Linked DNA regions of Homo sapiens: region 2 is linked to region 1. A link means that fine-mapping ties the variant in region 1 to the expression of a gene that starts in the linked region. Tissue or cell type: thyroid. Region 1 holds a variant in brackets; the other region holds the start of a gene. All regions are shown on one strand. Distances are from middle to middle.

Region 1 (6,120 bases):
ATGTGCAAAGGCCAAGGTAATTATAGGTGTGCACAGTTGTTACACACACAGATAGCAAATTTGACTAGGAACACTATGTTTCTATCACTAAAATACTTCATGAACAGAAAAATAGAAAAAGTATAGGCAACACAAAACTCCCCCCAAATCGATAATTTGGGGAAAACATAAAATGTTATGCTTATTACAAATAGAAATAATTATTTATCAGTGCTAAATGTGAACAAAGAGTCATTTAGCTTGATAATGTTTAAATAACATACACTTATATTCTTGAGAAAGAACATGCCTTAATATGAACAAACTTGATTTACTTTTATGCTTTTCTCACTCTTGTGTTATTTTTCAGAAAGACAAGATTAAGTATGACATTATATTACCCAGTCACACAGAAGCCAAATTAGCATTTGGATATCATCTTGAGAGACAATTACCAAGAGCCTTGTATTTCTTGGCAATAAAGCTTGCAAGTGAGGTCTGAATATGTGACAAACATGCTTTATTCACCCTATAGGGTGAAGAGATTTAGGAGCAACATATTTTAAAAATGAACAAAATTTACATATGAGATTTCTGGACCTCGGAGCCTATGTTCAAGAAACTCAAAGAAACTGAAAATTGCAATTTTTGGTCGAACAGTAGCTATTCTTGTGATTTTAAATAAACTTTATGATTGGATATATATACTTATTTATGAGAAGGTAGAATATGATTTTCAAAAGATAAAACTGACTTCTGAAATTCAGAAAAAAACAATGAAACATCTGAAATTTTGGGAGCCATTTTCAGACCTTCTTAAAGGCCTAACACTTTGGTTTACAAAGAACTCTAATGACTGGAAGGGTGGGAAAAAGCAAAATGAGTTCACTTTTAAAAAGTCTTTCTCCTTTGTTAGAGATCCATTTTCAAGATTAATTTTGGGGGACAGAATCAAATTGCTCAACACATCAACAGATATTAAATCTTGGATGGCTGAATTTCTGGTTGTTGACTTTCATAGAATATCATCTTTTCCAGGCTACACAAAAAAGATGCACACTAACTTTTGAAACGAACCTAGATGGCGTCTGAAGCTGGCGACTCACCTTCTTCACCCGCATAGGCCAGAATGGATCGTGCTCGTATCTGTTTCCCTTCTGTCGTTTTCCCTGAGCAGGTGTGTGAGCAGGAGGACCACGTAGACCATGTGCTGAGCACACAGTCTTTCGGGCATGGGGCATCACAGGCCACAGGGATGGGGAAGATGGCATCTCTGCACAGCTGTCTGTCAACTTCTTCTCCTGGGGAAAACATGACCACCAACAGCTATTATTGTTAAATTAATGTAAAATGAGCAATTTAAACCAGATGGGCACCCAGATAAGTTACATTATCTTTCTTTTGCTCTTACTTAAAAAAACGTAGCCAAAAGAGGGATTGCCTACTATAGCCAGATGTTAATAGAACACCAGGAACAAGCATATATACACACATATACACTCATGACCCTAAATGAGGCTTCTTTCATTATCAGGGTATATCAAGCACATTGCTGAGACGATTCTTATGCCACAGACACCTGCCCATTAAGTACTAATTTTTATACTTGTACTCTTAAGTTGTAATAAGGAGCATCAACAAAGCATGTCCCCTCTTTCTTTTTTGGAGATGAGCTATGATTTACAAATAATGACTCTATCCATAGCATCTATCATATGTTTTCATGAACCAACTAATAGGTGTCTATTTACAAACTCTCTTGTGTCTCTCAGAGTAGTTATTTTCATACAATTGGCAACCTTCTTCTTTCGTAAAAAATTGTTTGTTAGTTGGAAATAGACAGGAAATGTAAATGATGGGATAACATTATAAAGTCACTGCTTAAGGTGATCCCAGTTGGAGAGGGAGGGAAACAATAGAAAACAAACAAATGGCAGAAGTAATGTGATGTCACTCCAGTGCTTAATATTTTTCATTAGTTCCCTGTTGCTCTTAAGATAAAGGGCAGATTTTTCAAGTTTACAAGACCTCGACCTCAAATGACCTCGCTGTGTTTCTCTTCCTAGCCTCATCTCACTTCACTCCCTCATTTTGCCCTTGACACTCTAGAGATTGGCCCAAAAATGGACACTTATTTAATATTTGCTGAATGCGTGAAATGAGATATATAAAAGGCCAATGAGAAACAAAACATTGTTGCTGTTAATAAATGCCAAAAACAACCAACAGAATAACCAAAACAGGGTAGGAGAAAAAGTCTGAACTCTATGGTTTAGTTGATTAATATAGGTGGTTAACGAGGTCAAGGGAACAGAACAGAATGAAATCATACACAATCAAACAAAAATTAACCTGCTATTTTGGCACAGAATATAATCATAATTCTGGGTGAATATATAAAAAGTGTGTGCCTCGCATTAGGCATTCAGGTGAGAAAGGGTGACTCACCTTGCCATTCCTTACAGAGGCTACTGAACAAAATAGTCCAAGCTGTTTCTCACTTGGGGAGTTAGGAGCATCATTTTAATGTACACTCCTTTATTCATATGCTTTAAAAACAAGACAGAAAATCAGAGTAAATTGCAAATGCTCTAATATGTTAATAGCTACTAGCTTGCAGAGCCTTTAATCATGAGACAAAAATCAGAAGTCAATTGGAATGCACCTACGTGTTAATAGCCATTACATTGCAAGGCCTTAAATCATTAGACTTACTCACTAGTAAGTAAAGAAGGCTCATTAAAATTGCAATTGAGTAAATATTTTATTATTCATTCTTATTTAGCTACTCTAATCTGTGGGAGCTCTCAAATTTTGTTTTTATTGGTGTTGGGTTTTGGCATGTATCCCAATTAAAAAAATGTACTAAACAGATAGTAGATATATAGGTACATAGGTAGAGTATGAAAATCATTATTGTATAAGGCATTTAATATTTTA[C/T]ACTTGACATAATAATGATGACTCTTTTTTCTACTAGGCTTTTTCTTAGTGCAAGGGGTGCTCTCTTATATCTTATTTTCTTCACTGCTGTCTTTTATTGTACCATCTACCTTCTCTCACTTTTGTTTCCAATATTCTGTGGAAAGCAAGAAAAGTTTGGGGCTAAAGTCTATAGCTAACAAACGTCATATTTTTATTTATCCTCTAATAGTTACCTAATCTTTTCTATTCAGAAAAATATTTATTCTGTGGCAATGCAGACTTTGCTACAAGGGTGCCATTAGATTAGCTTGCCTAGCGTAAGTAATGCATTTTTGTTTGTTGTCATGTAAACCAAAGAAATGTGCAATTTTGACCTTTCTTCTAAGTTATGCTTTTTTCCGCACTCCCCCTGCCCCCCATCCGCCCAGTTTGTGTCCCATATCTTATTTTAGCTCTTTTTCAATCATCTTGTTCTGCTTGGCCAGGTGTACTTTCCTGTAGGATCACTCCTTCTACCACCCTTAATCCTCTGTGGAGCTATTAAGACCCATCTAAGATCCAACATCTGAGATTTCCCTGATGGTTTTAGAATGATTTCTGTACCATCCCCAACCCTTCCAGGTATGATCTTGTCCCTTTTTACTGTTCTGATCACTGTCTCACATTTAGGTTGAAGCTTTATGTTCTGGCCATAATGACTTTTTTCCCTTTCCTCCTGCAAACGAAGCCCATTGTTGTCTCAGCAGTTTTGCACTTTCTCTTCACTTTGTATGAAAATTTCAGGTCTTACACAGAATCCTGTTTTTCAACATTCAGGTTTCAGTTCAATTTTCTCCTTCCTAGAGGAGATTTCATTGACCATACACACTCTCCCAGTCACTTCAGTTTATTTTCATTATACTTTTAATCACCACTAGAAACTATTTTAATTAATTGGTTAATATGTTTATTGTCTGACTATCACTAGACTAAATGAGGGTGTTATCCGTATCTGTCTTGGTTGCTACTTCATACTTAGAACCTAGAATAGTGCCCGACACGTAGGAAGCACTAAATCATTTTTTGTTAAATAAATACATAAATTTTAAGTTGTGCTAGGAAATAGAATGTTGGTCTAGACAAATAGAGATCTAAGCACAGTATTTCTTGTCATGCATTCGAGTGCTCTAGGGCCTCCCGAAAGTGTATTTAGTGGATAGCAGCACATGCATCCCCTGGAGTTTGCTGGAAATGCAGCCTCTCAGACTCAACCCACTGAATCACAACCTTAATTTTTTTTTTTTTTTTTTTTTTTTTTTTTTTGTGGAGACGGAGTCTCACTCTGTTGCCCAGGCTGCAACGCAGTGGTGAGATCTTGGCTTACTGCAACCTCCACCTCCCAGGGTCAAGCGATTCTCCTGCCTCAGCCTCCCATGTAGCTGGGACTACAGGCATGCACCACCATGCCCGGCTCATTTTTGTATTTTTAGCAGAGAAGGGGTTTCACCATACTGGCCAGGCTGGTCTCGAACTCCTGACCTCATGATCTGCCTGCCTCAGCCTCCCAAAGTGCTGGGATTACAGGCATGAGCCACCGCACCCAGACTCAACCTTCATTCTTAAAAGATCCCCAGGTAATTTCTATGCATATCAAATCTAAGAAACAATGCTCTAGAATTTTTCTCCATTTATTGTCTTCTGGTTTGATTAGAACCAGATTGTCTCTTGACAGGCAGGTATGTAAAACAAATTCATCTGGACTTCATACCTAATAGCATTTGCTTCTCTGTGGAGATTCTCCTTATACTTCTCTTCACACAGAGTATCCATGGCTGAAAACATTTATTCAATGAATAGTTGCTGAATGCCCATCTTCTGTCAGGCACTATGCTAAGAATGTATGAATGTTGTATACATCACCTCAGCTAATTCTCACAATAACCTTTTGACATCAGTATTACTATCTATTTTTTACTTTAAAAGAAATTGAGACTCAAAAAGGTTAAGTTATCTTTCTCAAATAGCAAAAGTTTGACTAAAGGAACAGAGAATTGAAATGAGTTTTCACCAATACCCCAATCTGCTTTTGAACTAGATTGGGGTTCTTCTTGGTGGAGAACTGAGGATGCCAAGGCAGTAAATAATAGATAAGGCTTTGCCTCCAAAGAAGTCAAGAAACAGGCACTCTCAAGTTGTTTGTCAACACAGTGATGCATGTTGCCAGCCACACAGTGCTTCAAATACAAAGACATGCATTGTTGATGAGTCCAGTGGGACATGTTTTGGCTCATAGCCATTGAACAAACAGCAACTGATCTATGAGAATATGGAATAATTAAATTTTTGATTTTGCTTTCAATGAATGCTTTAATCAACTCAGCTAATTGGAACCCTTAGGAGCTGTCTTCTTTTTAAGCTAAATCTTCAGCATTCCAGGCATAAGTCATCTGGGAAACCATAGGCAAATAAAATCAAATAAAAAGTTGGGTCAATGGCTATTACAGGCAACTTCATAACTTGTCAATTCCAGCCACTTTTTGAGGCTATTAATTTTATCTTACTTATAAGGTTAATTGAATCTTACTTATAAGAACTTACTCTACTCTTAAGGTCTTACAAGAGTAGCAGAAAATAATTTCATCCCTCTTCCTCACATTAAATTTTGTTTTGGATTGATACACTTTATTTTGATTGGATAAGAACTGTTTTGCATAACATTACTTCAGAGTATATATAGGAGTACATTAAACACGCACATATCTAAATATCAGGTTAATTTATACTCCTCTATTTGGAGAAATGGAAGTTTTGCTGCCTAGCACTATGGGAATTCCACTTTTTCATATCAGCAGCCCCACAGTTAGGACATATTCATCCACCAGATGTCCCCACTATAGAACTATTTGAGACTTTGATTATCCAAGTGTGCATCCCATTAAATCTGGACAGACACATCTGATTATCACTACTGTGATTTGTGTAGTTCTATCACTGGTGTAGGTATGAACCAACGCAACTTGTTTTTCTTCTTTAGTCTCTCTGAGGACAATTTCTTAGCTAGATTTTGACTGTGATGTCACAAACATTTAGAATCCTCCTTATGCTTCTCTTCGTGTATTCATATTAAATATACTATCTTTTTTGGCATACATTTACAAACATAAATGGTTTCAAAGGATTGCTTTGCATTTATATAACTTTGTTTTTCTCACCCACAAAGGTCTAGGCATTATAAACAAA
Region 2 (6,120 bases), 350 kb after region 1:
CCACTGTGCATGTAGGTCAGGACCCCTAATCTGTGCATTGTTCAAGGGTCAACTTTATATACCCTTATTTGTTGTATATATGTATTTATGTGTGTATTTATAATATATGTATCTGACATATGCATTCATATATATGAAGCCCTTTAGGGGTTAAAAAGGCCCTTAGATATCATTTTATCTATTTAATGAGTATTACAAAATAGGAAGCCAAGAACCAAAGTCATTAATGACTTTACCAAAGTTCTACAGCATGTTAGTAACATACACAGTTTGAGTTCCTGTCCCAGATCTTCATCCAGTGTAACAACTTTCACTACATCATTTTAATTCAATAATCTCACCATTAATATGATTCTCTATAATCCTCTGTACCAAGACCAAGCTTACCCCATTGGAACAGATATTTTGGAGTATGTCACCTCTTTTCTCTTCCAATTCCCTTCTTGCCTCTTTATTTTCATCAAGTGATACACACATAGTGATTCTGTAACTTCTAAATTTTCATTTATGGTATATCTTTTTTCTTTAAATATTCTCTAGTTCTTTTGAGAACTACGTTCAACTCCTTTACAGATATATTAAAGTCTCCTTTCCCTTTGGTAAAAAAAAAAAAATAAAGAAGTCATTATTTTGCTTTCCAATTGAATGAACTATTTTTTTTTTTTACCAAACCAAGGATCACCAGTCAAGAAATATCTTTAACATCCTCATCACACTAGCTTACATTTGCATACAGCTTTGAAGTTTACCAATCACTTTCTCATAACTCATGTGATTTTCACACACTGCAGATAGGCAGAAGAAGGTGTCATCACATTTACATGCAGTTGAGAAAACTAAGGGTCAAAATTTAAGTGAACTGCCAAAATTCCTACAGCTAGCAAGAGCTAGGACTGGCACTGGAATCAAGGTCTCCATATCATTGTTTCTGAGAGCTTCCCACTATTTTAAACTGTTTATTGGCTTGTGTTCCTACCATGACATTTATGATGACATATATTGACACCTCAGATGCTGTACAGTGAATGTTGGCTGGGCTCTTTTCCATCTGAATTATTGCTTGGCTCTTGTTACTTTGCTAGTATAAATTTCAACTAGGCAACTACTATTTCATCCTACACTGACTTACCTAAGAAGCTCTCCCCAAGCATCCATATGATACCATTTAATGGTAAATTATAATTTGATTAATGTTTGTCATTATGAATGTGCTTTTAACAAGTAAAACCCTAGCTTACGCTAAATTAGAGATCTTCAAATCTTCGTTTCAAATTGAAGTAAATTAATTTTATTTCATTTGAATTCATTACTCAACTGATCTTCAAACTTAAGGTGTTAGCAAGAATAATCTTGCTTTTTAAAATGTGTATATGTTTCATGTAATCTTCTAAGACAAATTGTGTACTTTGACTTTAAATAAATTTCTGTTTAATCTCCTCACTAAATTTCTGGATAGCTGCAACTTCTTTAAAAATTCCAGATATCGATAGTGATGCAATTGTAGAGTAGACTGAGCTGTCTCTTCAGTAGTGGTGCAGAGATGGGCTGAAGCAGGAAAAGACACTCACTCCCTGAAACCTGTTTGCAACCCCATGACGAATACATACTTTCCCTTTCAACTACAACATTCTCTTAATGTTTGGCATGACCAAGTTATTCTTAAATTACCCCCTAGCTCTAAGCAACAGGAATAATCTTTTCCCATTTTATTCCTATGAACATGTGAAGTTTCAGGTCCCCTAAGGAATTCTCAATGTTTTTTTAATGCAGAGAGAAAGCGAACCCGCAGAAAAGGGGTTGGTAATTCCTCACTCCGTATTGTTTTCCTGCCTGTCACGGCCCCCGCCAGAAACTCCAAGCATTTTGCCAATGGGTAATGATGGGCAGTTAGTAGCTGCTTTTGTTGGGTGGTTGAAAAACAAAGCAAAACAATTCTCAAGGAAGGAAGAGAAAGTTTGAACCCAGACATCCTAAAAGTTGTACACTTTAAAAATCCTCCGACTCGCTAGTTAATAATTGAGTTTTCAGTCTTTCCCTGAAGGCTCACTGGAGCCCCATTTGCCTTTAATTGTTGGAACCGCCCTCACTTGGCTTGTTTCTGAGGTGTCCCACATATCACAAAGCTAAAGTTAACAAATTCAACTCTATATCCACAAATGTCATGACAGTGAGCATATTGCTTTGCCTAAAGAATAAAGACTGAGACTAAACTCTTTGCTTGTTCTTTGCTAGAAATCTGTTTGAGAAACTCCTAGTAGAATGAAAATCCAGGGGTTAAAAATAATGCACTTCATCATGGAAGTGCGCGTTGCCCTCATTACAGAGCTGCGAGAGAAATATTCCAGCTACTCACTGTTGCCTCTTAGTTGTTATGCTTTTCTTTCCTAATTGCATCGGACATGACCTATTTGCTTCCTAAGAAATCATACTTTTTACCTTAGGATACCAGCATAACCAAGCCATCCAAAAGCACCGGGGTCCCTACAGAAGCCCACCAGCTCCTTAATGTGGCCCCAGATGTGAAGATGGGGAAAGGGTAACTCCGTCCCACTTACCAGTCTTCCACAGATAGAGGGTGGGCGCCTCCGCCTCGCCCTGCGCCGCAGCCCTGCCGGCGCCCGGGCGTAGCAGCAGCAGCAGGAGCAGCGGCAGCGGCAGCGGCAGCGGCAGCAGCTGCAGGACGCCCCGGCGCGGCCCCGCAGCGCCCCGGCTCCCGGACGCCCAGCGCCTGGCTTGCAGCCCCATGCCGCCTGCAGCCACTCCAGGGTCCAGAGCCGTAGCACGCTCGGCAGGGAATTTTTCTCCGCTCTTGGAACGTCTTTTCAAAGAGTACAGAAAGCAAAGCTCTTTCCTGCTATTGTTCGCTTCAGATGAGAAGGAGGGAGAGCGCGTCTAACACCAGGGAACAATAGCGTCCGCGGTGGTGGCCGTGGCCGCTGCCGCCGCCGCCGCCGCCTCTGGCGGGGATGCTGCTGCCGCTGCCATTCCTCGCAGAATGGCAGGTCCCGGCGGCTCCGGAGGCAACTGTCCTCAGGGGGCCCCAGCTGACTGAGCAGGTCTGCTAGGTCTGGGAGGCAGCGCAGCCCCCGCCAGCTGGAGGGGGAGGAGGGGGGCGTGAGCCCAAAGGAGCAGAGGGGGCTGGAGGCAGAGGGAGGCGAGAGCGCGAGGGCGAGAAAGGGGGCGAGCAAAGGGGAGAGGGGCCAGCCAGGCGACACCCACCTCCGACATACCCGCCTAAAGAACTCCGGTGCACATGGTGCGATGAAATATGTTTGGAAGGATGCACCAATAAAAAGAATCATCACCCGGCAGATTTCAGAATGACAAATAACAGGCATTGATATTCACTGTCATCCAAGGAGTCAAATGCTAGATCTAGTGGCATGCTATTCTTAGTACGTATTTACACAAAGCATCAGTGTTTATTATCTATTTTTAAGCCATGGCTTCTGAATTACTTTGTGTGGGGAGCAGTATTTGAGATCAGGTGTGAAAACACGAGAGCAGAAATGTTGACTTGTCAAAATGCACTTAAACCCTTCTTTAAATGTTGTTTTTAACTTAATCTATTATCAATAAAAATATGAGCAATATTGATGCTCTGTGACAAATTAAATTGTCTTTTAATAGCCTTTAAAACTGAATTAGTGTTAATGAGTATTTGCAATGCTACCTAATTACATAAATACAATTGTACAAAAAAAAAACCCTTAAAATTAAAATTATATTTCAGGTATAGAGTTCTGTCCCTTCATCTACTTCTTTCCCTCAAAAATATGCTACTTCTAAGTATTCAGATAGTTGTGAGTCAAACTGAGTCAGTAATGCTGTCTGGATATCTTGGAATTAGTAAATTCTTCATTTAAAATTTCCCTGACACCGATTTTTCTTAACTCTTACTGTAGCAAAATGCCTGTCGCAATCTAAATAAGGAACCACATGTGTTTGCATCTTTTGTCCTTTGTGTTTTCACTTTCTTCTACCAGTAGTAATAGAAGAATGTGTGTGAAGTCGGATAATGCTTTCCCCTTTCTCCTTCTCCCTTTAGCTAATAATAATATATTTTATTATTAATTCATTTCACAGTAAAGCTAAAATAGTAGGCATTTAACCATTAAAAATTCAGCAAACGGAAAGCCAAAGAAAACTACTATCCCATCAGCAATTTTCAGCCAAATAAAATAAAATTTTAAAAGCAGGAAAACTACTTTTTATGAATTTACTCCAACATAGCTACCCTAGAGTTTAAGATGAGGAAGCTACTCTTTCTGAAAGAGGAAACCTTCCATAAGGCTCCCTTGGGACCCTTGTCATTTTGCAAAGCCTTCCAGACACAGCCCCTCTGCATGCATTAGATTAAAAGCGGGTTTGATCAAATAATTCCCAGGTCCTGCCTGTTTAAGTATTCTGACATCAGAGGAAATTAGCTACGTTGAAGGTTGCAAATTTGGTCTTTGTTTACTTTCCGCTCTGTTAGGCCTCTAAGAAGGAATTAAAAGCTCAGAGAGCCCGAGCGCTGTGAGTCTGTGATTAGGAGAGATAAGCTAGTGTGGCTTACTATTTCTTCACTCGTGAAAAACAGGCAACAATCAAAAGATTATAGGTTGATAAGGAATAAAAAGGAAGCCTGATCTTAACTAATGTATGGTTCCCTGAAGGATCACTTCTTTTGACAGTTACACCACAGAAGGAAATGGGACCTGCTATTGCTTCCTGGGTTCTGTCGTTTCAGGAAAATTTCCATGTCCACTCCACAAGGAATCATTTTCCCATCCTTTCTGCTTGTATTTCTCAGCTACTGTTAGTGCCCTAAACCTTGAAATCCTCTAACTCTGGCACAGGAAGTATTTCAAACTGGACATACTCTGCTAACAGCAGCCATTCTACGCATTCGTGGGAAGCGCCAATCAATTCACCAAGTGGGAATTCATTATATAACAGAGGACAGAGAGTCTGAGGAATTAAGTTAATGTGCAAGGTCATTTACCTAGCCCTTCAAAAAGCCATCCGACACTATACTTAATAGCTTATTGTCAAAAGAAATTTTAAGATTCTGACCTTTATATTTACCCATGGTGGTATAATAATAACTCAACTTGTCAAGAGTGTAAACATCATAGCTACAAATTCAAGCATTATACGGGGTCAATTTCTAGGTTCCAATTTGCTGCCATTTACAATACACAATTATGGTGATATGTTCTGCAGTACTGTTTCAAAATAGCCAACATTTGGTTTCCTTCTTTCAATTTCAACGTACACAAGGCCTAGGAGTCACACACACACATGCACATACACAAACACACACAATCATCAGCAAAGATATCTCTGAACAAGGTTAGAGAATCCAAGTCATATAAACATTTGTCTCCACACCTGCCACACATTTGTTCATAACAATGTCATTATTGCACTTGAGGACAAAAATGTATGGGTCTCTGAGGAGACAAAAGTGATGTATATATCCTGATATGTGTTCCTTTGTGAAAGGTATAGTGTCTAGGTAGATAAATCCTATCAATAAAACTGATAGATGGCAAGAGATAGCAAGACATAGCAATATTTGTTTCCTAGAATATGACATAAATAATAATACACAAATGTTTAATGACATGATGTCAAAATTTAGTCATGAGAAGTCTCAAGGATGCAGATTAAATTGACCATCTGTACAGCCTGCCATGAAGTAAATCGTTCGTCATTTTTCATGGAGAACTGTTCAAATATTAATGAGCCAGTGCGATAAAAGTTCTCCAAACCAATGAATGACAAATGCAAAGCATATTTTTTTAATATTTAGAAATGAAAAAATTCTAAACTTATCACCTCTCATGTGATAGGTGTCTTTATTCTGCCTCTATTAATTTTGCTATCATTTCTAAACTCCAGAGGTAAGGATGTGAACATACCTATACACATCTGTTTTCTCTTTTATTAGAACATAAACATATAAATATATATTACAACTCATGAGACTCATGACAATGACTTTTAGTCATTAGTATCAATATTTTAAAACAATTATGAAATATTCAGTTCCTTGATGGAAAGGGAAACAACTTTTAACATCAACAGTTTTATAATTATAAAAAAGTGAAGAAATATAGTTATTTATTGATA

The links. PIP is the estimated chance that this variant, and not a neighbour inherited with it, causes the effect.
Region 2: it holds the start of THSD7A, and the variant in region 1 is fine-mapped to the expression of THSD7A in thyroid (GTEx, PIP above 0.99).

What each region holds. Positions count from the first base shown.
Region 1 is chr7:11,480,703-11,486,822 of GRCh38, forward strand. THSD7A (thrombospondin type 1 domain containing 7A) reads right to left here. Exons shown (of 28, transcript NM_015204.3): 7 at 1,086-1,280. Among named protein-coding and RNA genes, the nearest start is that of THSD7A, 350 kb to the right of the region's middle. The variant C/T (reference allele first, on the strand shown) is at 2,920.
Region 2 is chr7:11,829,202-11,835,321 of GRCh38, forward strand. THSD7A (thrombospondin type 1 domain containing 7A) reads right to left here and starts at 2,997. Exons shown (of 28, transcript NM_015204.3): 1 at 2,556-2,997. The coding sequence starts at 2,745. RefSeq lists a silencer at 742-1,036 and enhancers at 2,594-3,134, 3,135-3,674.